Linked DNA regions of Homo sapiens: all the other regions are linked to region 6. Evidence: fine-mapped expression QTL. A gene starts in region 6. Each other region holds a variant in brackets. All regions are shown on one strand. Distances are between the middles of the regions.

What was found. PIP is the estimated chance that this variant, and not a neighbour inherited with it, causes the effect.
Region 1: its variant is fine-mapped to the expression of GNAZ in whole blood (INTERVAL, PIP above 0.99).
Region 2: its variant is fine-mapped to the expression of GNAZ in substantia nigra (GTEx, PIP above 0.99).
Region 3: its variant is fine-mapped to the expression of GNAZ in whole blood (TOPMed, PIP above 0.99). The same link has a PIP of 0.9 or more in caudate.
Region 4: its variant is fine-mapped to the expression of GNAZ in whole blood (TOPMed, PIP 0.96).
Region 5: its variant is fine-mapped to the expression of GNAZ in whole blood (TOPMed, PIP 0.97).
Region 7: its variant is fine-mapped to the expression of GNAZ in whole blood (INTERVAL, PIP 0.99).

What each region holds. Positions count from the first base shown.
Region 1 is chr22:23,258,478-23,262,477 of GRCh38, forward strand. It overlaps BCR (BCR activator of RhoGEF and GTPase), which reads left to right. Exons shown (of 23, transcript NM_004327.4): 3 at 2,473-2,577; 4 at 2,878-3,063. It also overlaps the pseudogene RN7SL263P. Among named protein-coding and RNA genes, the nearest start is that of LINC02556, 66 kb to the right of the region's middle. The variant G/A (reference allele first, on the strand shown) is at 1,755.
Region 2 is chr22:23,092,198-23,096,197 of GRCh38, forward strand. The region is part of intron 4 of RSPH14 (radial spoke head 14 homolog); the gene reads right to left. It overlaps GNAZ (G protein subunit alpha z), which reads left to right. Exons shown (of 3, transcript NM_002073.4): 2 at 3,050-4,000. The coding sequence starts at 3,499. Among named protein-coding and RNA genes, the nearest start is that of GNAZ, 24 kb to the left of the region's middle. The variant GC/G (reference allele first, on the strand shown) is at 2,203.
Region 3 is chr22:23,097,781-23,101,780 of GRCh38, forward strand. The region is part of intron 4 of RSPH14 (radial spoke head 14 homolog); the gene reads right to left. The region is part of intron 2 of GNAZ (G protein subunit alpha z); the gene reads left to right. Among named protein-coding and RNA genes, the nearest start is that of GNAZ, 29 kb to the left of the region's middle. RefSeq lists an enhancer at 3,615-4,000. The variant G/C (reference allele first, on the strand shown) is at 1,548.
Region 4 is chr22:23,161,082-23,165,345 of GRCh38, forward strand. It overlaps RAB36 (RAB36, member RAS oncogene family), which reads left to right. Exons shown (of 11, transcript NM_004914.5): 11 at 419-4,264. The coding sequence ends at 483. It also overlaps a transcript of RSPH14 not described here. Among named protein-coding and RNA genes, the nearest start is that of BCR, 17 kb to the right of the region's middle. The variant G/A (reference allele first, on the strand shown) is at 2,349.
Region 5 is chr22:23,286,905-23,290,904 of GRCh38, forward strand. BCR (BCR activator of RhoGEF and GTPase) reads left to right here. Exons shown (of 23, transcript NM_004327.4): 11 at 255-374; 12 at 1,193-1,268; 13 at 2,613-2,717; 14 at 3,435-3,509. LOC107985554 (a long non-coding RNA gene) reads right to left here and starts at 3,624. Exons shown (of 3, transcript XR_001755448.2): 1 at 3,310-3,624. The variant C/T (reference allele first, on the strand shown) is at 2,056.
Region 6 is chr22:23,068,424-23,072,423 of GRCh38, forward strand. GNAZ (G protein subunit alpha z) reads left to right here and starts at 2,096. Exons shown (of 3, transcript NM_002073.4): 1 at 2,096-2,147. The region is part of intron 4 of RSPH14 (radial spoke head 14 homolog); the gene reads right to left. RefSeq lists silencers at 1,771-1,910, 2,051-2,190 and enhancers at 2,797-3,677, 3,678-4,000.
Region 7 is chr22:23,112,484-23,116,483 of GRCh38, forward strand. The region is part of intron 4 of RSPH14 (radial spoke head 14 homolog); the gene reads right to left. The region is part of intron 2 of GNAZ (G protein subunit alpha z); the gene reads left to right. Among named protein-coding and RNA genes, the nearest start is that of RSPH14, 28 kb to the right of the region's middle. RefSeq lists an enhancer at 301-1,204. The variant C/T (reference allele first, on the strand shown) is at 1,783.

The DNA of each region.
Region 1 (4,000 bases), 190 kb after region 6:
GAAATAGGACAGCAGGGTTGGGAGTAGGCAGGGGCTGTGCTGGGACCCTGATTCCAAATTCTACAGATACCATGAGGCCTGAGCTGACCTCAGTCAGATCCTTCCTCAAACCCATCAGTTCTCACTGGAGGTGATTCTGCTCCCAGGGCATGTGTGGCAGCGCCTGGAGACATTGTGGCTGCCACACCTCGGGGGAGAGGGTGTTACTCACATACGATAGGTAGAGGCAAGGATGCTGCACAGAATCCTGCAAGGCACAGGATGCCACCCAGCCCCTGACAGAGACTCCTCCGGGCCTAGATGTCAGCGGGGCCAACGAGAAGCCTGCCCGCAGCCAGTGATTTTCCCCGAAAGTGGGAAAGTGAGTGATCAGGGACCACCGCCCCAGTTCCACGCCTGTGAGCCCAGCAACCAGTGGAGAAGTGGACGGGGCTGTCACAGACACCGGACCTGGCACCACCCCCACCCCCCGCACCCACACACTTTCCTCTGACTGCAGGCAGGGCCATTGGGCACAGGCGGAACAAAGGGAGCACGGCCTCAGCCCGGTGGAGCACTGAGGTGCTGCCATGGGCATGGCCAGCCTCCAACATTGCCAGTGGCCAGGGAGTAGGCGGGAGTGGCCAGGAAGTCAGGTGGCGATTTCTGTGGCCTTTGGCATCATCATCTTTGGTGTCATGCCTTTGCTGGGACTGTTGTAACAAAGCATCACAGACTGGGGGGCTTAAAGAACAGGAGTTTATTTTCTCCTAGTCCTGGAGGCCTGAAATCCAAGATCAAGGGGTGGGCAGGGTTGGTTTCTTCTCGGGCCCCTCTCCTGGGCTTGTCTTCTCTATGTGTCTTCACATAATGTTCCCTCCATTTGAGTCTGTGTCCTGACCTCTTCTTTTACAAGCACCCCAGTCCTGGTGGGGTAACATGGCTCATGCCTGTAATCCCACCACTCTGGGAGTTTGAGGTAGAAGGACCGCTTGAGCTCAGGAGTTTGAGACCAGCCTGGGCAACATGACAAGACCTTGTTTCTATTACCAAAAAAAAAATTTTTTTTTTTTTTTTGAGATGGAGTTTCGCTCTTGTTGCCCAGGCTGGAGTGCCACAGCATGGTCTCGGCTCACTGCAACCTCCCCCTCCTGTGTTCAGGCAATTCTCCTGCCTCTGCCTCCCAAGTAGTGGGGATTATAGGTGCCCGCCACCACACCCGGCTAATTTTTGTATTTTTAGTAGAGACGGGGTTTCACCATGTTGGCCAAGGCTGGTGATCTCGAACTCCTGGCCTCAGGTGATCTGCCCGCCTCGGCCTCCCAAACTGCTGGGATTACAGGCGTGAGACATTGAGCCTGGACCCCCCAAAAATGTTTAAGTTAGCAGAGCGAGGTGGTGGGTGCATGAGGTCCCAGCTACTTGGGAGGCTCAGATGGGAGGATGACTTGAGCCTGGGCTCTCAAGGCTGCAGTAAGCTGTGACTGTGCCACAGCGCTCCAGCCTGAGCGACAGAGTGAGACATCGTCTCAAAAAAAACAAAAAAGAATGTGACATATGGAACCTTTTGGCTTCAGTTTACCTTAAAGGCCCTGCCTTCAGATACGGTAACGTTCTAAGGTACTGGGGGTTAGGGCTTCCACGTGAATTTGAGTGGGGAGGGGAGATGTTATCATAACTAGGACTAGAAGGTGGCCTCCCAGGGGCATGGGCTCTGTCCCCTACATCAACATCCAACAATGTGTCAGCTTCATCATTTGGAGACAAAAACAGTA[G/A]AGCTTCCCTGAACTTTCAGCAGGGACGCTAATGAGAAGGGGGGACTTTGTCATAGCCCACATGTAAGAGGGTCCCTGCCAGTCCAGTGATGTCAGGGTCTAAAAAGCAGGGTCAGGGGACACAGGCCTTGAGCCCCAGGGACAGGGTTCTTCTGGGGCAGATGGTAGCAGTCCCTGTGGCTGGGAGGGAGGGCATCTGGAGAAGGCGGTGCTGCCTGGGCCCCGTCAATCGAAGGGTCATGTGGCGGCAGCAGTCAGAGAATCCAGGTGAGGCGGGCCCCAGGTGAGCAGTGGGGAGTGGAGTTTGGCTGCAGCAGAAGCCAGGTGGCCATGCTGTGGGCTCTGACGCCCCCTCAGGTCAGAGCCTCCTTCTCCTTCCCTGACTGTGTCAGGCAGCTGCCCTTGGGTTGCATGCAGAAGCGTGGAGGGAGGCCTGGCCCAGCCTGCTCCGCACCAAACTCTGTTTCGTGGTCTGGCAAGAGTAAGGGTGGCCCTGGTGTTGCCAGATGACCCCCCTCCCCGGGATTCTCAGTGACTGTGAGTGTGTGGCTTAGTATGTGCGGAGGGTCCCCTGCCTCCCTTTAATTCCATGTGGAGCCTTTGTGGGGGCAGGGGTTTGTCCAGAGGTCAACAAGCTGGCCCTCCTCTCTCAGAGGGCCCTGATGGAAGAATCCCCCTACCACCCTTCCAGGCTGACTTCTGTCTATTTCTCCTGCAGAGTGAGCTGGACTTGGAAAAGGGCTTGGAGATGAGAAAATGGGTCCTGTCGGGAATCCTGGCTAGCGAGGAGACTTACCTGAGCCACCTGGAGGCACTGCTGCTGGTGAGGAGGATTTAGGGAGCTGAGCAGGGCGGGATGGGGCAGGGTGACAGGGTTGGGGAGCCTCTTTGCCCTTAAGTCCCAGGTCAGCTGTCAGAGCCTGGGTGCAGCTCGCCATCCCTGGAGTGGATACCAGTGGAAGACTGAGTTGCCAAACCAAGCTGGTTTTAAAATTGTATTTGTTATGTGATTTAAAAATAAAAGTGCATATGTCAGGTAACCATGACTGTCTACTGCCATACAATGCACCTGACGGATGGCAGCCCCTCTCACCTGTGCTACCTCACTTGTGCCCTCTTCCAGCCCATGAAGCCTTTGAAAGCCGCTGCCACCACCTCTCAGCCGGTGCTGACGAGTCAGCAGATCGAGACCATCTTCTTCAAAGTGCCTGAGCTCTACGAGATCCACAAGGAGTTCTATGATGGGCTCTTCCCCCGCGTGCAGCAGTGGAGCCACCAGCAGCGGGTGGGCGACCTCTTCCAGAAGCTGGTGAGTAACCCAGGGCCGGTGCTGGGACTACAGGCGTGTACCACCACGTCCAGCTAATTTTTTGCATTTTTAGTAGAGACAGGGTTTTGCTATGTTGGCCAGGCTGGTCTCAAACTCCTAACCTCAAGTGATCCACCTGCCTCAGCCTCCCAAAGTACTGAGATTACAGGCGTGAGCCGCCATGCCCAGCCTTTTTTTTTTTTTTTCTAATTTATATTTATTTAGATAGTTATTTTTAAAAAGAGATGGGGACTTACTACGTTGTCCAGGCTGGAGTGCAGTGGCTATTCACAGGCGCAATTCCACTGCTCATCAGCACGGGAGTTTTGACCTCCTTCCTTTCCAACCTTGGCTGTTTCACTCCTTCTTAGGCAAACTGATGGTTCCCGACTCCTGGGAGGTCACCATATTGATGCCAAACTTAGTGTGTAGTGCACTACAGCCCAGAACTCCTGACTGAAGCCATCCTCCGGCCTCAGCCTTCCGCGTAGCTGGGGCTATAGGTGCACGCCACCACACCCTGTGTGTGGCTGGGACTACAGGTGCACGCCATCACACCCTGTGTGCGCCATCACACCCTGTGTGCACCATCACACCCTGTGTGCACACACTTTCCCTAAAGCAGGCTTCCTCCGCTGGGAAACAAGTCCTCTAGGGGCAGGTGTGGCCAGAGGCCAGGCCCCCCTCTAAGTGTGAAGAGCATGTGATTCCTTAAAAGCCCTTCCCCCAGCACTTCTGGACTACCGAGACACACAGCTCTGGCCTCGGGCCTCCCCTTGGCTGGTGCTGGGGGCTGAGTTTTCTGCTCTGAGGTGTGGCTTTCCTGTAGGGGGACCCCTCCCTCTGCCACCCTGTGCTGCAGACCCCCAGACTCCAGGCCAGAGCTAAGGCTTGAGGAACACAGAAGGCACTTAATTTGTTCCAGTTCTTGCTCCCT
Region 2 (4,000 bases), 24 kb after region 6:
CAGTAAAGCCCGGGTTAGACTCAGAGAGAGGGCTGGCTAGAGCCTTGTGTAAGAGCCAAGAAGTCAAGCCTCAGAATAGGTGGGACTGTCATAAGGTCCCATTTGAACCACAGCCAGGCTCCCAACGCAAGGCTTCCTTACATCCGTGCACAGCCCTGTCCCATGCGTGGTGCCCCTGCACAGGGCGCTCATACCCCCAAACACAACACAGCCCCACAGAGCCGCAGGGAGAATTCTGGGTGGGGCCTTCTGCTTGTTTGGTTCAGGTGATCTGAAAGACGAGGGTCCTCAAGCAGGGGACCTCCCCTTGGTTGTGACTGTTCGTCACTGCCCCATGCAGGTGACAGACTTGGCCCTGATGCATGTGATTGCTACCTGGCCTCAGTTTCCCCTTTCCTTGCACATTGCCCTGTCGTTGCCGGCGCACACTGATCGAAGACTGCATGAGCAGCCCTTAGCTCCAGGCTTCCAGACAACAGCAGTTCAGGGCCCAGGCTGCCAGCCCAGTGTCCCCAACCTGCTCTCCTGATTCCCCAGCCTTGGAGCCAGGGAGCACATACATCCCAAAGCACAAATCACACATCCTTGGACAGAGCAGCTTCTCTGCCCACCACTGGGGACAGAAGGGGCGCCTGGCTGTACCTCAGATTTTCAAACGTGGAATTGAGAAGAACAGTCATGACAACAGAGGACACCTCCCACTGGGTTGGACACTGCCTTCTGAAAGGAGCATGTTGGCTTCCTGCTGGAATGATGGTGCTGGTAGGGAGAACCCTGGGTCCCCAGGCAGTGGGCTGAGGGCTTTGGACACCTTTCCACACCTAAGGGGCTGTCAGGTCGTCAGCAGGGACAAGGGAGCAGCCACAGGGTCTCCATCCTCCATGCGCTCATGGTTCGTGTGCATATTACACATATCATGTACATGTCATCTTTAAGCAGATGTTCTGCCCACTGTGTGCTGGAGTGGGAGGGTCATCTCAAGGCTTCCATTCTCAGATGTAATTTTCAGCCTCACTGGGATTGGGCTGAGTGACTGTTTAATCACTGCCCTCTTGGCAGAGATGTTTCTAGGGCGTTCCCTGGTGCACTTCTCATCGGTGGCTGCCTGGTGAAGCGGGAAAGTTCCTCAGCCTCTCCATTGATTCCTTCCCTCCCTCCCTCCTTCCACCAACCAGTGCTTACTGAACACCCACTGTGCACTGGGCACTGCTCTGTTCCCAGTGGGGAACGAGGCCAGGACGGGCCCTCCTCACCCGCACTCTGGCTGGGGGTAGGGGCGACGGCAGCACACAAGGTCATGTAGGTCACACATTAGCTGAGGGCTGCTATGGAGGAGGAGGACAGAGGGCAAGGTGACGCTCACAGCGACAAGCACAGCAGGGCAGTGACTGCTACTGGCTGTCACTCTCTGAGGACCAGGCTTGTGCTGGACGCTTTACTCTTCACAGATACCTGTGGCCAGTGAGGGACAGGCTCTGAGATGGGAGTAAGTCGCCAGAGGCCACACAACCTGGGAGAGGCAAGCAAGGCATGAAGGATGAGACCACCCTGAGAGTGGTGGGGGTAATATCAGGGTCTGACCAAGGGAAAGAGGCGGCATTAGAGCCTCTGGCTGTCAGAGGCTGGCAGGGCTAGGGAGCAGGTGTGAGAGGCCACCACCACTGCCAGGAGAGACCAGAACCTCTGCCCAGGGAGAGGACAGCCCACCAGGGGCCTGCTTCAAAGCAGGATCGCCAGGACTAGTGGTCAAGGTCTGTGAGGGGCAAGGGACAGTGAGGGGCACGGATGGCTGCTGGGAGGATGAAGTGCCATTTGCTGAGGGTTTAGCAGGTTGAGTTTCAGATGCTGGTCACACCCAGGAGTTGAGGGTGGGGCCTTGGCTGTTGGGGTCTCTCTGCCTCGGGCCTTCCCACCCCAGGGCCTGTCACAGAGTTGATGGGTGGTATTAAAGGGGCGAATGCTGCCTGTGGCAGGATGGGGAGGCTGCGTGGGTCTCCGGACAGGGACATAGGTCAGGGAAGGAGCAAGAGGGGTGCGTGTGAGTTGGGTGGGGCCTGGTGCCACCCTGGGCTCACAGCCGGGGAAGAAGCCTGAGCTTTGAGCTGCCCCTCGTGTGGGGAGGCCTGGCCTAAGCACCCGGCAAAGTCACAGGGGCATCCTAGGGTGTGCCCCTCCCTGCTGGCAGGAAAGGTGGATGGGGAG[GC/G]CCTGACTCGCGGGGTTGGTGAAAGATTCTGCCTGAGGCCTCTAGGCCACCCTGCCTTGCCCTGGCCTCGGTGATTACTACTACCCTTGGGAGCCACTGTGACATCTGGTCTCCCAGGTGGATTTCCCCGCAGCACCACGTGCAGCCCCCAGCTCCTTGGTCTCAGCCCAAGCCCCCCTCTACCTCCTTCTGCAGGAGTGAGGCAGCCCCTGCCCACTGTGCTTAGGCACCTCACGGTGCTCCCACAGCCTGAAGCCTCCACCTTGCTCTGGTCCCTGCCTATCTGCTGGCTCCTGGGCTGGCCCATCAGAGTGCCCTCAAGGGAAAGCAGGGGCCAGGTCTCCCTCCTGGTGCTTTTCCTCCCTGTGATCAGAAGTGACCCAGCTCCTGCGGGGGTAATGAGAGTCAGGGAGGCGCTCAGTTATCCCAGGGCTGGGCCGAGGCCTGGCCACCCGTGTAAAACAGGGCAAGGCTGAGCTCTATCAGTGCTGTCTGGGAGAAGGGCCCCAGGGGGCATCACAACAGGGTGACCTTATTGAATCCTAACTGGATGCGGTAGAAGTGAGTCCAGCATGGGGGCTGGGTGGGCAGAGGCCTCGCACACACCCTCCTCTCCCTCATGCACCTGGCTTCAGGTGGACTGTCCAGGCAACAGCAGACATATGTGTTACACCATGGTGTGGGCCCTACAGCGCCCCATGGAGGAGAGGGGGTTGGATGGATTGTTGCCGGCTCATTTTCCAAGGCCAGTCTCTGCTGCTTTGCTTTCAGAAGAGCTCCCTTTCACTGTCCAGCCTGAGGTGGGGCTGCGGGGAGGAGGCTCACGCTTTTCTCTGTGTTTGGCAGGTGAAGGGCTGGATGCACAGTGGGAGCCGGAGGCGGGGGGCTGCAGGGAGCACACCAGCGACCGGCCCTCCAACCCTCCAGCCACTCAGCAACATCGCCACAGCAACCAGCAACCAGACGGCAGCAGCCGAGGCAAACACAAGCGGACGGCTTCCCACCGTCGCCGAGGACAGGGAATGACTACGGCAAATCAGGCCACTTTGCCAACTAGGGAGGTGGAGTGTCACTAGTGGGGAGGGGCGGCCACCGCCCGCTGCACAGAGCGCCATGCCGGCTGGAGAAGAGGCGCTGGGGCAGGGGCTGCAGTGTGGCTCGGCCTCACCCCCCTGCTGGCACTGAGTGCCTCCAGGGCAGCTGGGCTCTTGTCTGCCTGGTCTCAGTGTCCCCTGTGGCAAGAGGGAGAGGTGCCCCATCCCGTGCTCCTTGTCTGGGCCCGCTGCTGCCAGACCATGGGATGTCGGCAAAGCTCAGAGGAAAAAGAAGCAGCCCGGCGGTCCCGGAGAATTGACCGCCACCTGCGCTCAGAGAGCCAGCGGCAACGCCGCGAAATCAAGCTGCTCCTGCTGGGCACCAGCAACTCAGGCAAGAGCACCATCGTCAAACAGATGAAGATCATCCACAGCGGCGGCTTCAACCTGGAGGCCTGCAAGGAGTACAAGCCCCTCATCATCTACAATGCCATCGACTCGCTGACCCGCATCATCCGGGCCCTGGCCGCCCTCAGGATCGACTTCCACAACCCCGACCGCGCCTACGACGCTGTGCAGCTCTTTGCGCTGACGGGCCCCGCTGAGAGCAAGGGCGAGATCACACCCGAGCTGCTGGGTGTCATGCGACGGCTCTGGGCCGACCCAGGGGCACAGGCCTGCTTCAGCCGCTCCAGCGAGTACCACCTGGAGGACAACGCGGCCTACTACCTGAACGACCTGGAGCGCATCGCCGCAGCTGACT
Region 3 (4,000 bases), 29 kb after region 6:
AGCTGCAAGGCAAAGTGAGGTGCTCAGGCCAGACCCTTGGGACAGTGCCATGGTGGGTCTGCCAGTCACACGGGCTTGCGCCACTGGCCTCACCCATCACCACAGTGGCAGGCGTGGCAAATTCCCCGGGCACCAGGCCTGGCTCCCAGTTGCATCCTTTGACAGGCCGTGCCCACAGGTGTGCTGGACACAGGAGGCAGGATACCTGGGTCCTGAGTCAGTCCAGTTTTTCATGGAGGGCTTTGGCTGTCATGTTTGCTTTCTGAACTTGTCAGTGAGGAGATGACCCAGGTGTCTTCACAGATGGGCCCAAGGCTAGGCCTTTGCCTGCCTGCAGCCCTCTTGGCTCTTACTGGCCTGTGCCTGCCACCTTGCTGCCTCTCTCTCCTCTCCTTCTGCTCTAGCCGTGGTCAGCTTGTTTTGCTCCAGCAGTACTGCTCTGTCCAGCCTTAAGCTTGTAATGATCCTGATCCCTGCCTCTCGTACCCCTGCCCTTATCCTCCAGGTCTCATCCCAAGTGGCGCCTCCTGGGAGGCCTTTTCTGACCTAGCCCGGCACCTGCTTACTCCTCCATCTAGTGATGTGTGAGTGAGCTCCTCGGGGCAGGCCCTAGATGGGCTGGGTGGCCCCTGTGGGGCCTCACATCTCTAGCTTTCCCTCTCCCAGGCCTGTCCCTGGGGAGAGCCATGGTGGGCAGCCATGGGCAGGGACAGCAGCCACTGGCCTGGTCTCAGGGATCCCTGTGAGGTTCCAGGCATTCAAGGCACTTTCTAAAGGGAGGGGCTGGCAGCCAGGCTGGCACACCCACCACCATCACCCTGGTTTCTGCAGGCCTGGGGAAGTGGTTGTTCACCAGAAAAGGAAATTCTTGATGAGAAACCCAAGCGAGGCTGGAAATTCACTGGATTCCAAATGATTCTGACCTTTCATGCTCTACCAGTAATATCTGGAGATGGAAAACAAACAGGCTGCAGAGGAAAGACAATCCCCTCCCGCGATTCCTCCCGCAGGCTGGGCTGGCCCCGGAGGTGAGCTGGCCCCCAGAGTGGTGCCGGCAGTGAGGACAGCCCGTCTCCAGCCGGGCCAGGGCCAGAGCCAGTGCTGGCACGGGCTGGCACAGGGCTGCCACTCTGCTCTCTCCTTTTGGAACGTGCTGAACTGTCCTCCCTGGGCCCTGTCAAAGGCAAGGCAGCCAAGAACAGGCCATGCTCGTTTTCACAAAAGCCGAATGAACCTTGGGGCCCAGTGCCAGGGCTCTGGACACGGCTCCTCCATAGCCCTCCTTCCGTGCTCAGCTTCCAAGGCCTCATCTTCCCTGATGCTGGCAGTGCCTCCCCACCCCCACGCCTGGCGAAGGAGCCACAGCCCCCCGGCCCACCCGCTGGCTTCTGCGTCAGCACGTTGCCAAGGAGAACGTCAGTGTCTCTGGGCTCCCGGGTGTGAGGGCTGCAGTGAGTGCAGGGCAGCACCTCAGAGCAGGGAAGGCAGATTTCCGGGTGTCTGTGGAGCATGGCAGCGAGCCACATGGGGAGCCACGCCCCTCCATG[G/C]CCACGGTTCCCACCCTCGTCCGAAGGAATTGGCAGTCCCTTGCCCTGACTAGGGCCAAGTCCTGCAGGTGTGTCAGGCACCCCAGTGCCCCCAAGCCCAACACCCAGCTGGGGCTTCCTCAGGCAGCACAGGAGGCCTGAACACAGCCCAGCAACACAAGGGGGTTTTTCTGGCGCACCTGTCCCCTGAATGATCCTGTGGGGCAGCAGCGCCTGTTATTTTTGTCACAGATCGAGGCACTGAGGCTCAGGCACACAGCTGGCGCTGGCGGGCCCCCAGCCCTCAAGTCCACAAGGACAGCTCCTGAGAGGCCATGTGTCACAGGACCCACCACGGGCCTCCCACTTAGCCAGAGCCATGGCAGAGGCTCTGCCCCTCGTCTTTAGTACATTCACACAAGGGTCAGTCAGCAAAGACAGTCACTCTGCTGCCCTAGGAGGGAAAGGCAAAGTGGAGAAGCTGGCACCTACCAGCCCACACTGAGGGACAGACACAGGTGGCTGTGACCAGCAGAGCCTGGGTCTTCACTCGGCCCCACTGGAGGCACCTGAGGGGGTAGGTGGGCACTTGTTGCCCAACCTCTGCCCTTGCGGATCAGCTAATGGACTCTGCTGGCCACCAAATGGTGTGGGATCCTTCAGAAGGCAAGATTAAAAGGTCTAGTTGTAAAGCATCAAATGTTCTCATGTGGAAACCCACAGGGAGCTCACTGCCCATTTCCCGACGGAGCTGTCAGCATTCCCAGCCCTGTGGCGGGTCTGTTTTGCACCTGTGATGGACCTGCTGTGCAGGCTCAAGGCTCAGGCTGGGGCCAAGTATGAGGGTGAGCACAACTCTCCCAGCAGCACAGGGAACTGGGGGACAAGGAGGAGGCAGTCACACCAGCCCAGCTACAGCTTCATTTCCACAAAGCCTCTGCTACCAGGGATACCTGCCCTGTCTTTCTAGAGCTGGCAGGCAGCAGTTCCCAGCAGTGTCCCCATTGTGCTTTCATCTAGGACCCACAGTAGTCACTTGGGCCCCACAGGCAGGCTGGGTCACAGCAGGGTTCACCGTGGGAGGCCTGGTGTCTCTGCCACTTATCTGAGAGACAGCTGGTCAACATGTTATCAGTGAGGGTATCCAGGGGACGGGGGACATAAGAACATGCCTTTTGTGGGGCAAGTTCTGCAGGTGGCAAGTGCTTGAGCAGCCAGCCTCCAGGCAGGTGGTCTATGCCTGGCCCTGGATAGTGGTCCCTTGTCCTGGGGCCATTGGCTTCCTGAGGAACCCCTCCCCACTCCAGGGCAGGTCAGCAGCCTCAGCACACCACGAGGGCAGGTCCACACCCACCCGGCACAGCCTGTGCTCTGAGCAGAGGGCCTGGCACACAGTGGGTGCTCTGCAGACTTTGTGGAGCGGGCGGGAGGCGGTAGGCTTGGGAAGAGCTGGAGCTCCAGAGCCCTGGCTTCTGGGTGCAGAGCAGCTGGGACACTCAGCCCTTCCCAAGGAGACCCTATGGGTGCTCGTCCATAACAGGAGTGTATGCAGTACCCTGAGGAGGGGCTGCCCAAGGCCGTCCTGTGAACACAGCGTGTTCCTGCCACCCTAGCGCTGTGGTTTATCATTTAGCCCAAAAAGGGTGCTTGTTTTAGTGCTTTTAAAATGGAGTTTAAACATTTGTGCCATAAAATGGCGTGTTGTGGGTGAAACAAGGTGTTTCCAGTAAGACAGGCTTATACCTATTGATGACAGAGCTGGTTATATTTGCCCAAGGAGGGAATTACAAATGGGCAATAGCCAGACACAGATGATACCCTCTCCCCAGCATACCAGGGCTTAGATTGAGAAGGGACCTTATATATCCTTTAGTGTTCCTAACCAGCCGGCTTTGCAGATGAGGAAACTGAGCCTCAGAGAGGTTCCTTCACATACCGCAGGGCTGAGACTCTGGCTCTCAGGGAGGGTCCTGGCACTGGCCCCTGGGAATTCCAGTGGCCCCCCTCTTCACCATACTGGTCCCACATCCTGTGGGTGCTGGGGTTCTCCAGCAAGGGCCTTGGGGGTATAGACTGGGTTCCACCCTTGGAGCTGCTGTGTAGCCAGCCTTCCCTCAGGAGAGTGGAGGACAGTGACACCTGGGCTTGGGAGAGGTGAGTGGCTGTGAAGGTTGACACTCCCCTCGTCCCCTTGTCTCCTGGCCTAGTCAGTGGCAGGACCACAGGGAGCCCTAGCAGAACATGGCCTCACTCTGCCTCCTGTTCCTGACCTGGTCAAGGGCATAGCTCCAAGCCAGAAGGCCTGCCGCCCTTTTCCCGACACACACAGGTCTCCCAAGCAGTTCCTTCTGATCTTGCAATGTGCCAGGGCCACATGCAGTTTGTCTGCAGCATCCTCAAGTTATCATGACCCTGGAACAGCAGAGCCTCCTGACCAGATCCAGAGGCAGGGCCAGGCTGGCACACTGGGCTCC
Region 4 (4,264 bases), 93 kb after region 6:
TTGCCATTTCCTGAACTTGTGGCCCTCTCCTGTCCTTTGACCCTCCTCTCAGGGTGTCACTGCAGCCTCAGGCCTGTAGCCCCTCTGATTCCACCTGCCAGGTCAGACACCCTCCCTAGCCCTCCCTGTTCTCCTGACACATGGACCTCATGGGCATCCATGAGGTCCTCATAGCCCAGGCTGGGCGTCCCAGGCTCTGCAGATGTGTCCTGGCCCCGGCTCTCCCAGTCTGCACCTTTGCCCTCTCTGTTCCAGTGCCTGGAAGGCCCTCTCTTGGCTTGTGTCAGGCCATTCAGGCCTTGAACAGCAGGCCCAGAAGCTTCAGCTCACAGCTCTGACTGTCAGGGCCGGCATCCCCTGCCCAGTGTCAGCTACAGGATTCCTGGTTGATGCTAAATTACTTCTCCCCTCCTTACAGAAATGGAAGGGAGTCCGCCCGAGACCCAGGAGAGCAAGAGGCCCTCCAGCCTGGGCTGCTGCTAACTGGGGCCTGCGTGGAAGGCCTCCGCTCCCTGCACACACACGGACAGGAATTTCCGTGACTGTGGTGTGGAGACTGGAGCCCAAGCTCTGCAGCGTGTCGCCCTCAAGCTGTAGGCCCATGTTCCAGTCCCTCCACCCACCCACCGGGCTCAGCTCCAGGGCACAGTCACTTGTCCGTTGCAGGTTGGGCACTAGAAAAGGCCCCCACTGGCTGCCTGGGAGCCCCACACCACCGGGCCAGTGCAGGCACTGTGGTGATCCCATAAAAGGCCAGTCCATTTGCAGGGTCATCAGACAGTCACCTTTGGCCTCAAGAGGCCTCAGAACTGCAAACTCCTGCGTCGGTCTATACTACTCGGCCATGGCCCACATCAGCAGTCAACCCTGCACTCTTTCCCAGCGATCTTGGATGTGTCCCCAGGATCCGTCACAGTGTTCCAGGCAACCTGGACTTGTCAAAGTCAGCACCTGAAGGAGAGGCCACCTGCCATTCCCCCTGGGAGTTTTCTGTTGTCAGCAGGACTTATGGTTCTGGGTCTCAGAGCTTCAGGCCTCACTGTCCTTCTGCCACGGATGCTCAAGGTTCCTGGGCAGACCAGCACCTCTGGAGGACAATGGACAAAATGTCTCTTAGACCTGTTCTGGCTGAAGGGCTATCTCTGGCACCTCTGAGATCCCTAGGTCCTGCCCTCCTGGTCCGTGGGCCAGGATGTGCAGAACAACCACTCAGGCCTTTCTGGCCCACCTGGACAGTGCATTTACCTGTGTGCTGCGGGAGGCAGACTGCACAGCTGTCCTAGGGTAACTCACTCTGCAGCCCTTGAACATGGCACTGCCCTCCTCTGGCACTCATGCTGGGCCTGTGCCCACTGCTGCCTCTCCATCCCTCTCTCATTGGCCTATACATCTCTTAGGACCTTTGTAATGGTGTCCATGCACCTTTAGAGGACTTCAGAGGCCCTGCCAAGTCTAGCATGTTCCTGTCTCCAACACCGCCTCCTGCACATGCAGAGCAGACAGAAATACCCCACACATTCCCCAGCCTCTCTGCCCAGTATGCTCATCCACAGGGTTTTCTCACTGCTATGAACCAGCCCCACAGCCCCAGGCCCCTGTCACCTGGCTATGCCCACTCATCCCACCCGTCTCGTGCTGTTGCTTCCCGTAGATGGCGAGCACCTTGCAGGCAGCCTTCTGATCAGTACTGCTCTCCTAGGGCCTGGCACACTGCAGCTGCCCTGTAAATGTTCAGCTCAGCGATTGCCAAATACCAGTTAGGGAAGAACACTGGCATCTTTTTCTATTCATTCCCCCTTCAACATATTTTTTGTAGTTTTTTATATAAATGACTTTTTTTTTTTTTTGAGATGGAGTTTCACCCTTGTTGCCCAGGCTGGAGTGCAATGGCGTAATCTCGGCTCAGTGCAACCTCTGCCTCCCAGGTTGAAGCGATTCTCCTGCCTCAGCCTCCCAAGTAGCTGGGATTACAGGCATGCACCACCATGCCTGGCTAATTTTGTATTTTTAGTAGAGATGGGGTTTCTCCATGTTGGTCAGGCTGCTCTCGGACTCCTGATCTCAGGTGACCTGCCCACCTCGGCCTCCCGAAGTGCTGGGATTACAAGGGTGAGCCACCATGCCCGGCCATAAATGATTTTATTCATTTTTATGTTTTCTTTTGGGCGGCGGGATGGAGTCTCTGTCACCCAGGCTGGCGTGCAATGGCACGATCTTGGCTCACTGCAAGCTTCCCCTTCCGGGTTCATGCCATTCTCCTGCCTCAGCCTCCCGAGTAGCTGGGACTACAGGCACGTGTGACCATGCCGGGCTAATTTTTTATATTTTTAGTAGAGAGAGGTTTCACC[G/A]TGTTAGCCAGGATGGTCTCGATGATCTGACCTCGTGATCTGCCCGCCTCGGCCTCCCAAAGTGCTGGGATTACAGGCCTGAGCCACCGCGTCCGGCCTCCATAAATGACTTTTAAAGGGGTTGTATGTTTAGTGTGAACAAAGACAGTACAAAGCATATAAAATACAAGGTGAAAGCCCCCCCCCCGCCACATTAGCTGCGCCCCTGAAGTGTCTCCAGCAGAAGAGATGGATGAATGGAAGGACACACAGATGGACAGAGAGCAGGAAAGACTGTTAGCTCTGCTAACAGTCAGGACTATTCCTTCTGGACTCTGTGCCTTTGCCTGCACAGCTAGTGTTGATGGCTTGTTTGTTGTTTTCACCAGAGTGAGCTCCTTCTGGACATACTGCCTGGCAGCCTGCCTTCCTAGGGAGCTGGCGCCAAGGCCTCTCCCTGATGGCACACAAGGAGCCTCCTTCCTGTAGCAGCGCCCAGTTTTCATGTGGATGGATTGTAGTTCATTTGACCCTCCCCATCCGCGGGCCATCCGGCTTGTGTCCAGCTTTTAGCTCTTGCCAATGGTGCTGCAGTGGCCATTCTTGTAGTTATAGCTTTGCGTACTCAGGAAGGCCCTTCTCCCGACTGCGGCCCCCAGCCTGGTCCACTAAATGCAGCCTGTGGTCGGGCAGACAGCATTGGGGTCCATTAGGAAGACCAGGTTTGCTGGGCATAAGCTTCACAGGACGGGAGAACCTGCCCATGGTGGACTGTCGTTCTCCACAGCTCCCTTCCCTTGCCCCTTCGGGCCTCCAGGATATGTTTGCGGGGGTGGGTGTGGTGTCCAGCTGTTACCAGCTTCTGAGCTAGAGCTGTACTGCCTCACGTACACCCCCACCTCTGTAAATGGTCCTTGATTAAATCGTCCTCATATTACCTCCTGCAATGTGCCAGCTGATTCCCACACACCCTGACTGACATAGTTGTGGCCTCTCGAACTTTGATATTTGGCCTGGGAGGACAGAAGAGTAAGGTCGCCACGGAAACGCAAGGGGCTCAGTTGTCCCCCCACCCCAAGTTGATGCAGCATCTTCTCGGTCAGAATTGCTTCAGGGTGGTTTGCGCACCCTCACTTTGATGATTTAATGAAGACATTTCCTTCTTTCCCAGCATCGGGCAGTAAGTTTCCTGGGCAGAGGCACTTTCTGTTGGTCTGGTCTTGTGGGCCCAGGCAAGCAGCCCCCTGCAGCCAAGGTGCGGCAATGACCACAGTGACCGCGTCCAAGTGCTGCCGAAACGCCTTTTTCCTCTTCCCTGTTTCCCTGGACCCTTTCCTGCTCTCTGTCCATCTGTGTGTCCTTCCGTTCACCTGTCTCTTCTGCTGGAGACACGTACCTGAAGCAGGTCCTCTCCTGTCACTTCCTGGCTCCCCAGGGCTAGGTCCCAGGGTGCTCTCGCTCTGGCTTTCGAGGCTCCTCACCACCCAGCCCACCCCACCCCCACAGGCCCCTGTGCTCCAGTTTCATCCCTGGTCACAATGCAGTCTGCAGATGCCAGACCCCTCTTCTGTGCCCAACGGCTGGGACACCCCTACTCCCAGAGAGGCCTCTGTGGACACCCCCACAGCTCTCGCAGCACTTGATACCTTGAGTGTGATTGGTCACATCTGGGCTTTCTCCCCCACCCATCTGTGGAACCCCAAGAGCCAGGACAGTGACCTCATCACCTCTACTGTCTCCCCTAGCACCTCTGGGAGGAAGGGCCCACAGTAGGTGCTCAATAGATGTGTAAAGAAGGCAGGGAAGCAAGAAGGTTGCTCAAACAAGACCATGTTCCCAGCAGACAGATTGCACTCTGACCCAGATGCCACCACACGAAACTTACACCTGCCTGGGGAACAATCCTGTGCTTGGCTCTCCTTGGTGGCCAGGGACAG
Region 5 (4,000 bases), 220 kb after region 6:
ACTTAATTCCTCCAAAAAAGGTTTACTGAGCATGTCCTGCAGCTTATGCCATGCCTTGACCCTGTAAAAAAGCTGTTTCTGTCCTCCAGAGGCCACCAGCAACTGCGGTCTGGGGCCCTGGTCTGTGCTGAGTGGAGAGATGGGATTCTTGCCCTCTGCAGGCTGAATGCAGCTGGTGGTGGGGATGGATGGAATGGGAGTGGGTTGTGTGGAGCGCTGGAATGGGAAGGTGAGGCTGTGGCATCTCCCCACAGAGGGCGAACAAGGGCAGCAAGGCTACGGAGAGGCTGAAGAAGAAGCTGTCGGAGCAGGAGTCACTGCTGCTGCTTATGTCTCCCAGCATGGCCTTCAGGGTGCACAGCCGCAACGGCAAGGTGAGCGCCTGCTGTTCCGGCCCCTCCTGCTCTCCTGGCCTGGGATGGGCTCCTGGTTGCCTAATGGCAGTGCGTTTTCACTTGGATGCGCCCCACTCTGAGAGAGGCATGTCCGGCATGGTGCATGCAAGCACGCACATTCCTTTGTCTGGGGCTTTGGGCTGTAGCCCCCAGGTTGAGTGGCAGCTGGCTCAGCTCCCACAGCTGGGAGTGGACAGGGTCTCCAGGGAGGGTATAGGGCAGGGGAGCCTAGCAGGTTTGTGCAGATCTGGCCCTTGGTACAGGGATGCTGTCCTGGGGCCTTGAGGGCCAGAGACACACCTTCTGTCCTGAGTCTGGCTCCTGCTGCCATCTGTAACCTGGGCCTCTCCCTCCTGTCAATACATGTCTGTCAATGTCCAGAATGGCTTGTTTTCTAGCCTGACCAGGAGAGGCAGCTGGTGGGCTCTGCAGAAGCCTCACCTCTGGGCTAGTGTGGGGCTTGTGAATTGAATGCAGGAGGTCAGGTCTGGATCAACGTTCACCTCTGCAGATCCCACCTGGTTACCTCCATGTCCCTAAGCTGTGCCCCTCTGCCAGCATCACACCCTGACCCATGTAGTTCGGGTGAGAGATGGTGTGCCAGAGGTGCTGTGGCACCCAGCTGGCAGGAAGGGTAGGGAGTGCCGGAAGCGACATGCCAGGCCGTGAGCACACCTGGCCACTGGGCTCCAGCCGGCTGGAGATACGAGTTGTGTGCTCTAAGGTGCCCCGGGCCTACCAGGCATTTGCGTAGCCAGGGCGGAGATAACTGGGTGTGTTCTTCTTGCCCACCCTAGAGTTACACGTTCCTGATCTCCTCTGACTATGAGCGTGCAGAGTGGAGGGAGAACATCCGGGAGCAGCAGAAGAAGTGTGAGTATCCTCTGTCCTGAGAGGGGCTGGGCTTCAAACCATTAGGGCCAGGCTGGCAGCTCCTGTGGTTTTAAACCTTCTTTTTTATTTCGAGGGGTTTTATCCAAGTGAAGTGTTGCATGGAGGGCTAATTTAGAAAAGAAGTTGGCGACAGCCATCCCGATAGGCCCCCAGCCCTCTTGTTCCCCTGCCAGCCTATCCTGCCCCCATCACCTGGGCACTCATTTCCCCACTGCCCTGTGATCCCCTGTGAATCCCCCTTCCCCAGGCCCTTTCCAGATTCCACACCTGCCCCTACACACACCCCTGCCATCTCCCCCTAGTCTGCTGCCCATACACCGCACCCCCGGCCTGCCCCCTAGTCCTTTCTGGGACCCTGCCACCACCCCATTTTCTTGGCCTCCCCCATTTCTCCTCATCTACTCCCCGCCCCCTGGGCCTTCCCTGCCCCAGCAGGTGCTGATGCTAAAGGGGCCTTTGGCTGGGCCCACTTGGGCATTCACACTGTGCTGGCCCCACTGCCCTGTTCATATGGCCGGGGTTGCCCGCTCTCAGCTCAGGGGCGCTCCCTCCTGTCTGGGGCAGCCCCTTCCTTCTCTGGGCACTTCCCTCTGTCAGGGCGCTCCTTCCTTCGGGTCCTGCCTGGCAGTGTCGGTGGGGAAGGCAGACCCGGTTCCCTCCTTGGAGGTTTGGGATTCACCCTGAGCTGGGGCTCTGCATGCCTCTGGCCTGGCCTGACCTCCCGCGCCCTCAGGCTCATCATTCTCACCTATGCAGAGCCACCTCT[C/T]GGCCCCCAATGCCACCGTGGCCTGGGGGATCAAGGATCTCCGGGCAGCCCTGCCAGTGCTTGTGTCCCAGGGTTTCCTGTCATAACATAGGAGCCCCAGCCATTTCCAGAGTGGCAGCCTCTGTTCCCTGTTCAGCATTATGCCCAGAAATAAGCCCCTTTTCCTCACCTGGTGGAGAAACGGGGGCCTGTGTTAGCAGAGGACGGGCAGAGCCATGCTGCTGTCTGTATGGGGAGACCTCACAGGGAGGTGCTCCCAGTCCAGCCACTCATTCTCAGACCTGCCTTGTGGCTGTGCTTAGGTAGCGTGGGATGTGTGTGTTTGTAAGTCTCATGCTAAGACTCCTCCAGGCCTGGGCTCTCCAGGGCCACACCTCACTCTGCCGCCAGACCAGCACTGCACTTGAGAGCCAAGTGCCCTCTCCTGAGCCCCCAAGCCCTGGCACCAGTTCTTGCCGTGCCCCTTCCCCAGGGTGTGTGGTGGAGGTCCAGTGGGAGGGGCCAGAGGGCCAAGGAGCAGATTGACCAATTGGTGCACCTCTTTTCCAACCTCCCAGGTTTCAGAAGCTTCTCCCTGACATCCGTGGAGCTGCAGATGCTGACCAACTCGTGTGTGAAACTCCAGACTGTCCACAGCATTCCGCTGACCATCAATAAGGAAGGTGGGCCCCCCCGTTTCCGTGTACAGGGCACCTGCAGGGAGGGCAGGCAGCTAGCCTGAAGGCTGATCCCCCCTTCCTGTTAGCACTTTTGATGGGACTAGTGGACTTTGGTTCAGAAGGAAGAGCTATGCTTGTTAGGGCCTCTTGTCTCCTCCCAGGAGTGGACAAGGTGGGTTAGGAGCAGTTTCTCCCTGAGTGGCTGCTGCTGGGTGGTTGAGGAGATGCACGGCTTCTGTTCCTAGTCACAAGGCTGCAGCAGACGCTCCTCAGATGCTCTGTGCCTTGGATCTGGCCCCACTCCCGTCCTCCCAGCCCTCCTCTCCTCCAGCTACCTGCCAGCCGGCACTTTTGGTCAAGCTGTTTTGCATTCACTGTTGCACATATGCTCAGTCACACACACAGCATACGCTATGCACATGTGTCCACACACACCCCACCCACATCCCACATCACCCCGACCCCCTCTGCTGTCCTTGGAACCTTATTACACTTCGAGTCACTGGTTTGCCTGTATTGTGAAACCAGCTGGATCCTGAGATCCCCAAGACAGAAATCATGATGAGTATGTTTTTGGCCCATGACACTGGCTTACCTTGTGCCAGGCAGATGGCAGCCACACAGTGTCCACCGGATGGTTGATTTTGAAGCAGAGTTAGCTTGTCACCTGCCTCCCTTTCCCGGGACAACAGAAGCTGACCTCTTTGATCTCTTGCGCAGATGATGAGTCTCCGGGGCTCTATGGGTTTCTGAATGTCATCGTCCACTCAGCCACTGGATTTAAGCAGAGTTCAAGTAAGTACTGGTTTGGGGAGGAGGGTTGCAGCGGCCGAGCCAGGGTCTCCACCCAGGAAGGACTCATCGGGCAGGGTGTGGGGAAACAGGGAGGTTGTTCAGATGACCACGGGACACCTTTGACCCTGGCCGCTGTGGAGTGTTTGTGCTGGTTGATGCCTTCTGGGTGTGGAATTGTTTTTCCCGGAGTGGCCTCTGCCCTCTCCCCTAGCCTGTCTCAGATCCTGGGAGCTGGTGAGCTGCCCCCTGCAGGTGGATCGAGTAATTGCAGGGGTTTGGCAAGGACTTTGACAGACATCCCCAGGGGTGCCCGGGAGTGTGGGGTCCAAGCCAGGAGGGCTGTCAGCAGTGCACCTTCACCCCACAGCAGAGCAGATTTGGCTGCTCTGTCGAGCTGGATGGATACTACTTTTTTTTTCCTTTCCCTCTAAGTGGGGGTCTCCCCCAGCTACTGGAGCTGTCAGAACAGTGAAGGCTGGTAACACATGAGT
Region 6 (4,000 bases):
GGTCTGAATCCTAGAACTGTGCCTACAACTATACCCTGGTGGAGGAGGCTATCTGTAAGTGACTGCTGCATGAATACAATATTGGTTTGATGCCAGGTGAGATGTCCCTCTCTTACTTTGAGGTCAAGTCAGGGAGGTGTCAGCCAGCCCCAGTGGACCCCTCCGCAGGCTAGCCTCTGCTCTGGACCACTGGAAAGGGCCATCTCACTGTTGCATGTGGGCTTACCTCTGCAAACAATTCAACTCTGACCCCCAGACTCTGCAGTGGAAACAGCCTCTGGCTATCCCAAGACATGCTAATATGCATTTCCTATAAACATTAACCCTCAGAGCCACCCTCTGACCACAGTCTGTTACATTCCCTTTTGACAGAAGAGGAAACAGAGGCTCAGCCAGGTAGCACAGCTGCCGGTCTCTGTGTGGTCCTCCTGGCAAGAGGTCCAGCCTGACACAGCCTGGTGGTGTGGAAGGCAAGCACAAAGGGTAGCTAGCCCCTCAGCCATTGGCTGAATTCCCTTGGTCCTCACTGGACACCTCCAGTGAGCACTAAGTTCGCCTCCATGATGCCCATAACAAATATACGTCCTGTTCCTGACAGTTGAGGCAGCACCCTCACAGGTGGCCCATGACCCTGCAGGTACGTAACGCAATGGTCTCCATCTCACAGAAGAGGAAACATTCCTAGGGAGGTTATGGGATGATGCTGAGATGCCACAGTGTCCAGCTGGCAAAGCCAGGCACATGCCCCTGCCCCTCCACCACAGAGCTATGATGGAGAGACCGCTCCATGGACCTCTGCCATGGTCAGGTCCAGGGCTGCTGCTCAAAGAATGGCATGATCCACACCTTACAAAGGTGTGAGGTGATAAGGAACGCGTTAGCTGGGAAGGCATTTGCACTTTGTCAGGGATGCTCTAGGATACACAAAGCTTCAGATTTACAAAGATGGAGAAGAGAGACAGGAGCATTCATGTCTTGGCCCTCTGGCTTGAGAGTCTTTTAAGCATGGAACTGAGGGACTCCTGGCCCTGAGGTCCACAGATAGGCTTTGAAATTGAAAACAGAATTTTGCAGCCTGGGTTCAGCTGCGTTTTGCTGAGGGTCTGATGCTTTCCACCAGCTTCCCAAAAGCGCCAATCAGTGGCCTTAACTGAACTGGCTCTCTCACGCTTGTCTGGGCTGGGGGCCAGCTCCTCGGTCCTTCTCCCTTCCTTCCCTCCCAAGGCCACCCTTCCGTGTGCCAGGATTGCCAGGGACGCCAAAGAGCCCCTAGACACTGGGCGGTGGCGGCGGGGGGCGGCGGCAGAGATGACTAATGCTCCCTCCCATCGCTGCACAAACCTCACCGGTGTAAATCGTTAGGGTTTGCATAGGCCTTTCACACGTTCTGAAGGATTGGTGAGACAATCCAGGAAAGCAGGTGCCACTAGCCCCACTTTGCAAACAGAAAGGCTGAGAGAGGTCAGTCGGTTGCCCAAGGACGTAGAGCTCACAAGAGGCCGAACTGGGTTTGAACCCGAGTGGAGAGAAGGCGAGCCGGGACTGGCTGCAGTAAAGAGGGCCAGGACCATGGCTGGGCTCAGGCTTGGTTTCCCGGGCTGCCAGAGGTGGCCCCTGGGGCTCGGCTACCAGGCCTCAGCGCAGCGGAGTCGGTGGAACGCCGGCGCGGGGAGCTCTTGCGGGACTGCGGCGCGCGCGGAGCTGCGACCCCGCCCCTGTCCGTCCCCATTGGGCTACTGGCCCGTCCGTCAGCTGCCTGTGCCCAATGGACAGAGGGCCGGCGCTCGTGGCGGGGCGGAGGTGCCCGGCGCGTGGTGCCCGGCGGGCGCGCGGCACCCCCCCGCCCGCGGTTGGCCTGGCAACGGGCTGCGCTCGCGGCTCCGCCCCCTGCCGGCGGCGGCGCGGCGCGGGGCGGGCGGACCCGCGGACTGGCGGCGGGCGGCGGGCGGCGGGCGGCGCGGGAGGGCGGGCGGAGGGAACCAGGCCGGCCGGAGCGTGTGCGCCGCCCGCGGTCCGGTCACGTCCCCGCGTGGGCGCCGCTGCCCGCGTCGTACGGAACGAGGGCGCCGCGGCCCCGTGCTCGCCGCCCCGCCCCGCCCCGCCCTGCCCGGAGCAGCTCGGCAGATGCTCTGTGCTGCGGCCCGGAGGTGAGTGAGCCGACCCGCGGCCGGCCGCGCGCCGCTGAGCCTCAGGGGTCGGGGGCACGGCCGGGGCATCCACCTTGCCCCCACTTGGGACTCTTCCCAGGCCTTTGTGCCCCGGATCCGCCAGGACGCAGCGTCAGGGATGCCCCTCAGGGGTGGGGGACACCAAGGGCGGGGACGCCTGCGAGGTGGGCAGGGGGCGGCCTCTGGTCGGGCAGGTGCTGGGGGAGGGATGCGCCGCCAAGCCGATGACCCCGCGGGAGGGGGCGGTTGAGGACCCGGGAGGGTGGACAGAGGGCGCCGGGGATGCCGCGCGGGGCCGCCGGGCGCCCCCAAGCAGCGGCTGATGCGGAGCCCGGGCGGGCCAGGCGAGCTGCGGGAGCGGCGCTGAGGCGGGTCTCCCTAGGGGGAGGATCAGGGAGGGGCGGCCGGAGCCGATGCAGGGCCTTGCCTGAAACCGAGGAGAGGGCCCCAGAGGCCTGGGCCCGAGGACCTGGGCCCGCAGACGGACAGCTAGCAGTTCTCGGTCACTGCTCTTGCAGCGAGCAGGTTCCTCACAGGCATTTAGAGGAAGAGATGAGTATCGACCTGCTGCGATTGTAATACGTTCCCGGCTCAATATTTTTTCCCTTAAAAGGCGGTGGGGGTGTTTGGGGGAGGGGAGTGAGGGCCTCAGGGCTGGCGCTCCGTATCCTGCGGGCGATCCGAGGGGGCTCTGCCTTTAGGGCGGTGCTGAGCCTTCCTGGGTGATGATGGCAGGATTCGGCCTAGGCCGAGAATGGGGGCTCCTGTTAACTGAGACAAGAGGATGATGCCAAGCGAGACCAGCGTTCCGCGTAGTCCGTGTTGGGGTGGAGGGACCCGCCTGGTAGAGAGGTCTGTCTTGCTTGGGGAGACAGCTGAGCCCCTGACCGGCTCCTTTCTGCCCAAGTGATTTCCCTGCCCTGGGGATTGAGCTCTCTGGAGAAGGCTCCTTGGCCAAATTCAATTAAGCAAATATTTATTGAGTGGTCACTCCCCCAGAGCTTGACGCTGGGGTGCACCGGGTGGGAGTGGACTGGGCCTGCCCTCCCAGGACTGATTGACCACCGCATAGGGGAAAACGTCTCTACTCGACCAACCCCGCTTGAGTGCAGGTGCAGGGGCCTCGGGAGGGACCTCAGAGTGGTGTCCTGGGCTGGGGGGTCAGGTGAGCTCGTGGGCAACATGACATTTGAACTGGAGCTTGAAGGACATGGGCACAGCTAAGCTGGGCATTGTGGGCAGAGAGGAGAGAATAGACCGAGGCACTTGGGCAGTTAGGTCTGATGGGAGCACTTAGCATGCCTGGGGAGTAGGAGGAGGTATGGCGGGAAAGGCCGGTGGGGGCTGCACGGGGCTGAGGGAGCTGGGAAGTGGAATGACCCCACTGCTGGTTAACTGTGGCTATGGTGGAGACCACGGCTTCCTCATCTGTAAAAGCGAAGCAGTTCCATGACCCCATGAGCTGGGGTGGGCCTGGAGAAGAGCTAGCTTTAAAGACTGGGGAAGGCTCCTTGCAGTCTGAGACTGTGCTTCCAGGCACTTCTCCCTCGGGCACAGCCAGGGCACTGGGTAACCACCCAGGCAACCCCCTTGTTAGGATTGAGTTGCCTGTTTCGGGGATGATGCTTAGCTAGTGACTCTGTGCCTCTGGGATGTGGATGTTTGAGAGCAGTAATCGTGGCAGCCTGGGAGCATCCATCTACGGGGTGCAGTGGGGGTGTGGATGGCCTGGCGGTGCTTGGATAAAATATGCGCCTTGAGCAAGCCTCATTCTCTAGGAATGAGGAGATGCTGGCATCTGGTTTAAAAGTCTTCCTGTGTGTTCCTCTAAC
Region 7 (4,000 bases), 44 kb after region 6:
CAGGGGTATGACAGCCCTGGACACAGCAGGTCTGTGGCCACGGCAGGAGGGCGAGATGGACACTTAGCAGGAGGCTGGGCTGAGCTCCTGGTGGAGTCAGGGTGGGACTGTGGCAGGGAGACCCCCTTCTCCAGCAAGGACAGGGCCACTTCCTGAGAAATGGAGCATCGGACAAACACCAGCGGGGTGGGAATGGCAAGTGCTCAAGGTAAGCACGATGCAGCTGCGACCTGTAGACTGGCTGCAATGGGGAGCCTGGCCAGGAGAAGCCAGAGACGGACACCAAGGTCAGATCCTGAAGCACAGAAGACCCTCAGTGGGGATAGGGACCTGGCTGCAGGGAGCAAGGTGGCCAGTGTGGACCCATCAGGAAGGCAGGGGCCTGGTCTGGGGACCCCACAGCTCCAGCTGGGCAGAGCTACCCCATGCTGTGCTGTGCCATGGAATACCAGCCAAGAGACCAGGAGCAGGGAGCGTTCTGATAGGAACATCCAGCTTTCAGGTCTGACGTGGCCCATTTTACCAGAAGAAGGGGACCTGCTCTGAGCATAGCAGCCCCCTCTGCCTGGAACCTCACAGGGCTCACCTCCAGGCTAGCACCCTGCCCCTGCGGCTGACCCTGGCCAGGAAGACACATGTTAGACAGCTGGCTGGACTTGGTGCCTGCTGTGGCTGCAACTCCCCTGGGAAGACAGCTGAGTGTTCTGACGTTGGCTAAACTGCATCTTTACAACAGCTGGGGCCCCAGCGCCACCTGGCCCTGTGCCCAGGCAAGGCCCTGCTGGTCCCAGCATCCTTCTCTCCCACAGATCTTACCCCGGCTCCCACCCCAGCACTCTGGCCAGCACCGCCTCCCTGTTTCATAGTCCCATCAACCCCTCACACACTGGCTCCCAGCTGCTGCCACCACCTTGAGCTGTCTCGGATAGCCTCCTGCCCATACCCCTTTGGCCTGAGGGTAGATGTAGGCCAAGAGCTTGCACCTACAAGCTTCCCCAAAAGGGAAGTGAACTCAGGAATTCCTGATGAGGATTCCAGGACTGGCTGGGGAAGCACGGGGTTGCAAGCGAATAAGCTATTTCCTTTGCGACTGATACCATCCTTGGAGTGGATTTCCTCTGGTGCCTTCCCTGTTCCACAGCTGCAGAGGCATCTAGCACAGGGGGCCAACACCACAGGCCCCTCCACTCGGTACACCTGCCAGGACCTCGGCGCATCATCAGATGGTGGGGCCCACTCGCCCTCTCCCCACTAGAGAAGTCTGGGAATGCCTGTGTCCCAGACCCCCTCGGCAGCACTCAGGATGGCCCAGGCAGGTTGCAGAGGCTCCTGCCCACCAGGCCTGTCACACAGAGCTCTGGGAAATGGAGATGGGCAGTCAGTGCCAGCCAAGGGCAGGCACCCGCTACCGATGGAGGCATGTTGGTCACTGTGTCAGCAGTGCCCCATGTCCCTCCAGCCACACCCTGCCCAGCAGACAGGCAGCCCCACCAAGGTGTCCCCAAGCTTCCACCACAAAGGGAGGCCCAGAGGGGTGAGAGGCTTGGCCGGTACTTTGTGAAAGGTGACAGCATGAAGCTCATCTCTGTATGAAACCTCTGCCTCGGCCCCTCAGTCAGGGTGCTGCCCTCAGAGCCTGGTACTCGGTGGCCCTGGTCAGGCCTGGTGGCTCAGCTGCAGGCTGGGTGGCCGCAGGGCTGGCCTGTCCATGGTGAATGGAGCGCATTCATGTCTACAACCCCGCCCCACAGCTCTGCTCTCGGCGTGAAAAAGCTGAATTCA[C/T]GGTTCGGATGAACACTCCCAGCTTTTCTACAGTGGGCTGACTTGAGCTTCTCAGTCTGTAACAGAACTGAGGACTTGCTCTACAGATGAGGAAACTGAGGCCCAGGGTGGGACAGACCGGCCCCGGCCCCACCCTTCCCAGCAATGCGGCTGCATCCCCATGCCTCTGTGCCTCTGCCAGCCCCTCCTGCAATGCCTTCCCTTCCCCTCAGCCCCCAGAGGTCCAGTCAAAACGTCCTGCTCTTGTATTACCCCTCGCCCCCTGCATTCCTGTGGTGTGTCACCTGTCAGAGTTGTAGCTGGCCAGCACTATCTGCAGCAGTGCCAGCTGCTCACAGTCACTTGTGCCTGGGTGTGGGGACTAAGCTGTCCATGTGTATCCCACATCAGCCCTCAGCCCCCTCACGAGGGAAGTATGCTTACATATTCTGTGTGTGTGTGGTTATTTTTTTGGAGGGGGGACAGGTTCAGAACAGCTGGCAGAGCAGGAGGTTGGGCCTGCATTGGCCACTCCGCAGCTGCCACACCGGCTCCAGCATTCCCTCCTGCCTGTCCTCACCCACCTTGTTGAGAGCAAGGCTGTCTGCTTGCCTCCATCCCTCACACAAGAGCACCTGGAGAGCCTCTGCCCAGGGAGGTGAGGAAAGGGAGAGGGCAGTGGGGACTGCCATGAAGGCATCTCAGAAGCTGGCAGGGCTGGGGGTTCCAGGTCATCTGTGTCCCAGGGATGATGCTGGTTCCAGGAAGAGCTGAAACCTTAATGTCACGTGCATTTTATGTGAGGTTTGAGGCCCCTAGTTGGGCCAGCTGGCCTTGCTCTGTGCTGTGGCCACAGCAAACTGCATGGGGTCCTGTGGAGTAAGGGACCTAGTGGAGAGTGAGTGGACAGGGAGACCAGATGGGTCAGTACAGAGCCTTCCCCAGCCATGTGGCCATATCACACTGGCATCACCCACCTATTCCCCAATACAACACAGTCCGGGGGCCCCTCACCTGGCTGAGGTATGTGACAAGGCTCTGAGCTGATGGTGTACGTTCAGCCTGAGTAGGTGTTTGCATGTGGTTGCCCCCAAACCAGTGTGATTTGGGGCTGCATGGATCCAGAGTAGGGAGGTGACGGTCCCACCATCTCTGGGGTGTGTGCAAGGGTCAGGGTTTGGGAAGGGGTTGGACAAGACCAGTGTCCCTGAGGACTGCCTACCTGCTGGGAGCTGACATGGGAATCTGGGAGTGCGTCTGGCCTCCTGGAGGGGGTCTCGGGTTGCCCAGAGGGGAGCGAGGAGGAGGCCCAGAACATACCCCTTCCTAGAACAGGAAGGTGGGGTGACCCTGCAGGGTGGCCTCCCACACCTCAGTGATGCCTCGGTGACCCCTAAGGCAGAAGATGCGTGAAGCAGGCATGAGGCCCTGAGCACTGCTGGCCACCCCTGCAAATGGAGGGGCCCCACCTGAAGTTGGGGGCCGGGGCTCATGTTTGAGCCATTTTGACTGGGTCTTTTTCAGTTTATTTTCTAAACCTCAGTTTATTTGAAGCACAGTACATGATTGCTCACTTCAGGAAATTCTGTTCAAGTTTTCCTAGCAGAGTTACTCATTCCTTCATCTGTGCAAGGGGAGGGTGGTGGTCATAATCACCACCCTGATCCCCCTACCCCCTGGGCCCTGTGTGAAGATGACAAGGCAGTGCGGTTGGCTGAGGGCCTGGGCCAGGCCAAGCACACCAGGAAGGTGCCGCGCATGTGCCAGATGGGCCCTGAGGCCGCTGGGGTCCCACAGCAAACAACAAAACAGTCAAACAGGTGCCAGCCTCTGTCATGTGCTCACCACGTGCCCAGGACCACGTCTGTGTGTGCGTTTGCCTGGGTAAGCCTTGCTTCGTGAAGCTGCCATGACCTCCGTCTCCTCACTGAGGGGCACAGGGCAACAGGCTGCCAGGTGAGGGGCTGAGGGGCCTTCTGGGGGCCACTGGCCTACTCGAGGCACAGTGAGTTGTGGGAACGAGGAGTAACTTGGAGGTGGAGCTGCGGGTGCAGAGGGAAAAAGACACCTGGGTCATGAAGGGCTGGCCTGTCCGCCTGAGGGGCCCAGAAGTGCAGTGAGGGGATGACGTGGCTACGCGCCTGTGACAGGGCACCTGAGGACATTTGCAGTGCAGGAGGGAGAGCGCTTCAGAGCAGGCCAGTGTCCCTCCCACCCGGCCCAGTCCCTGGTCCCTGGG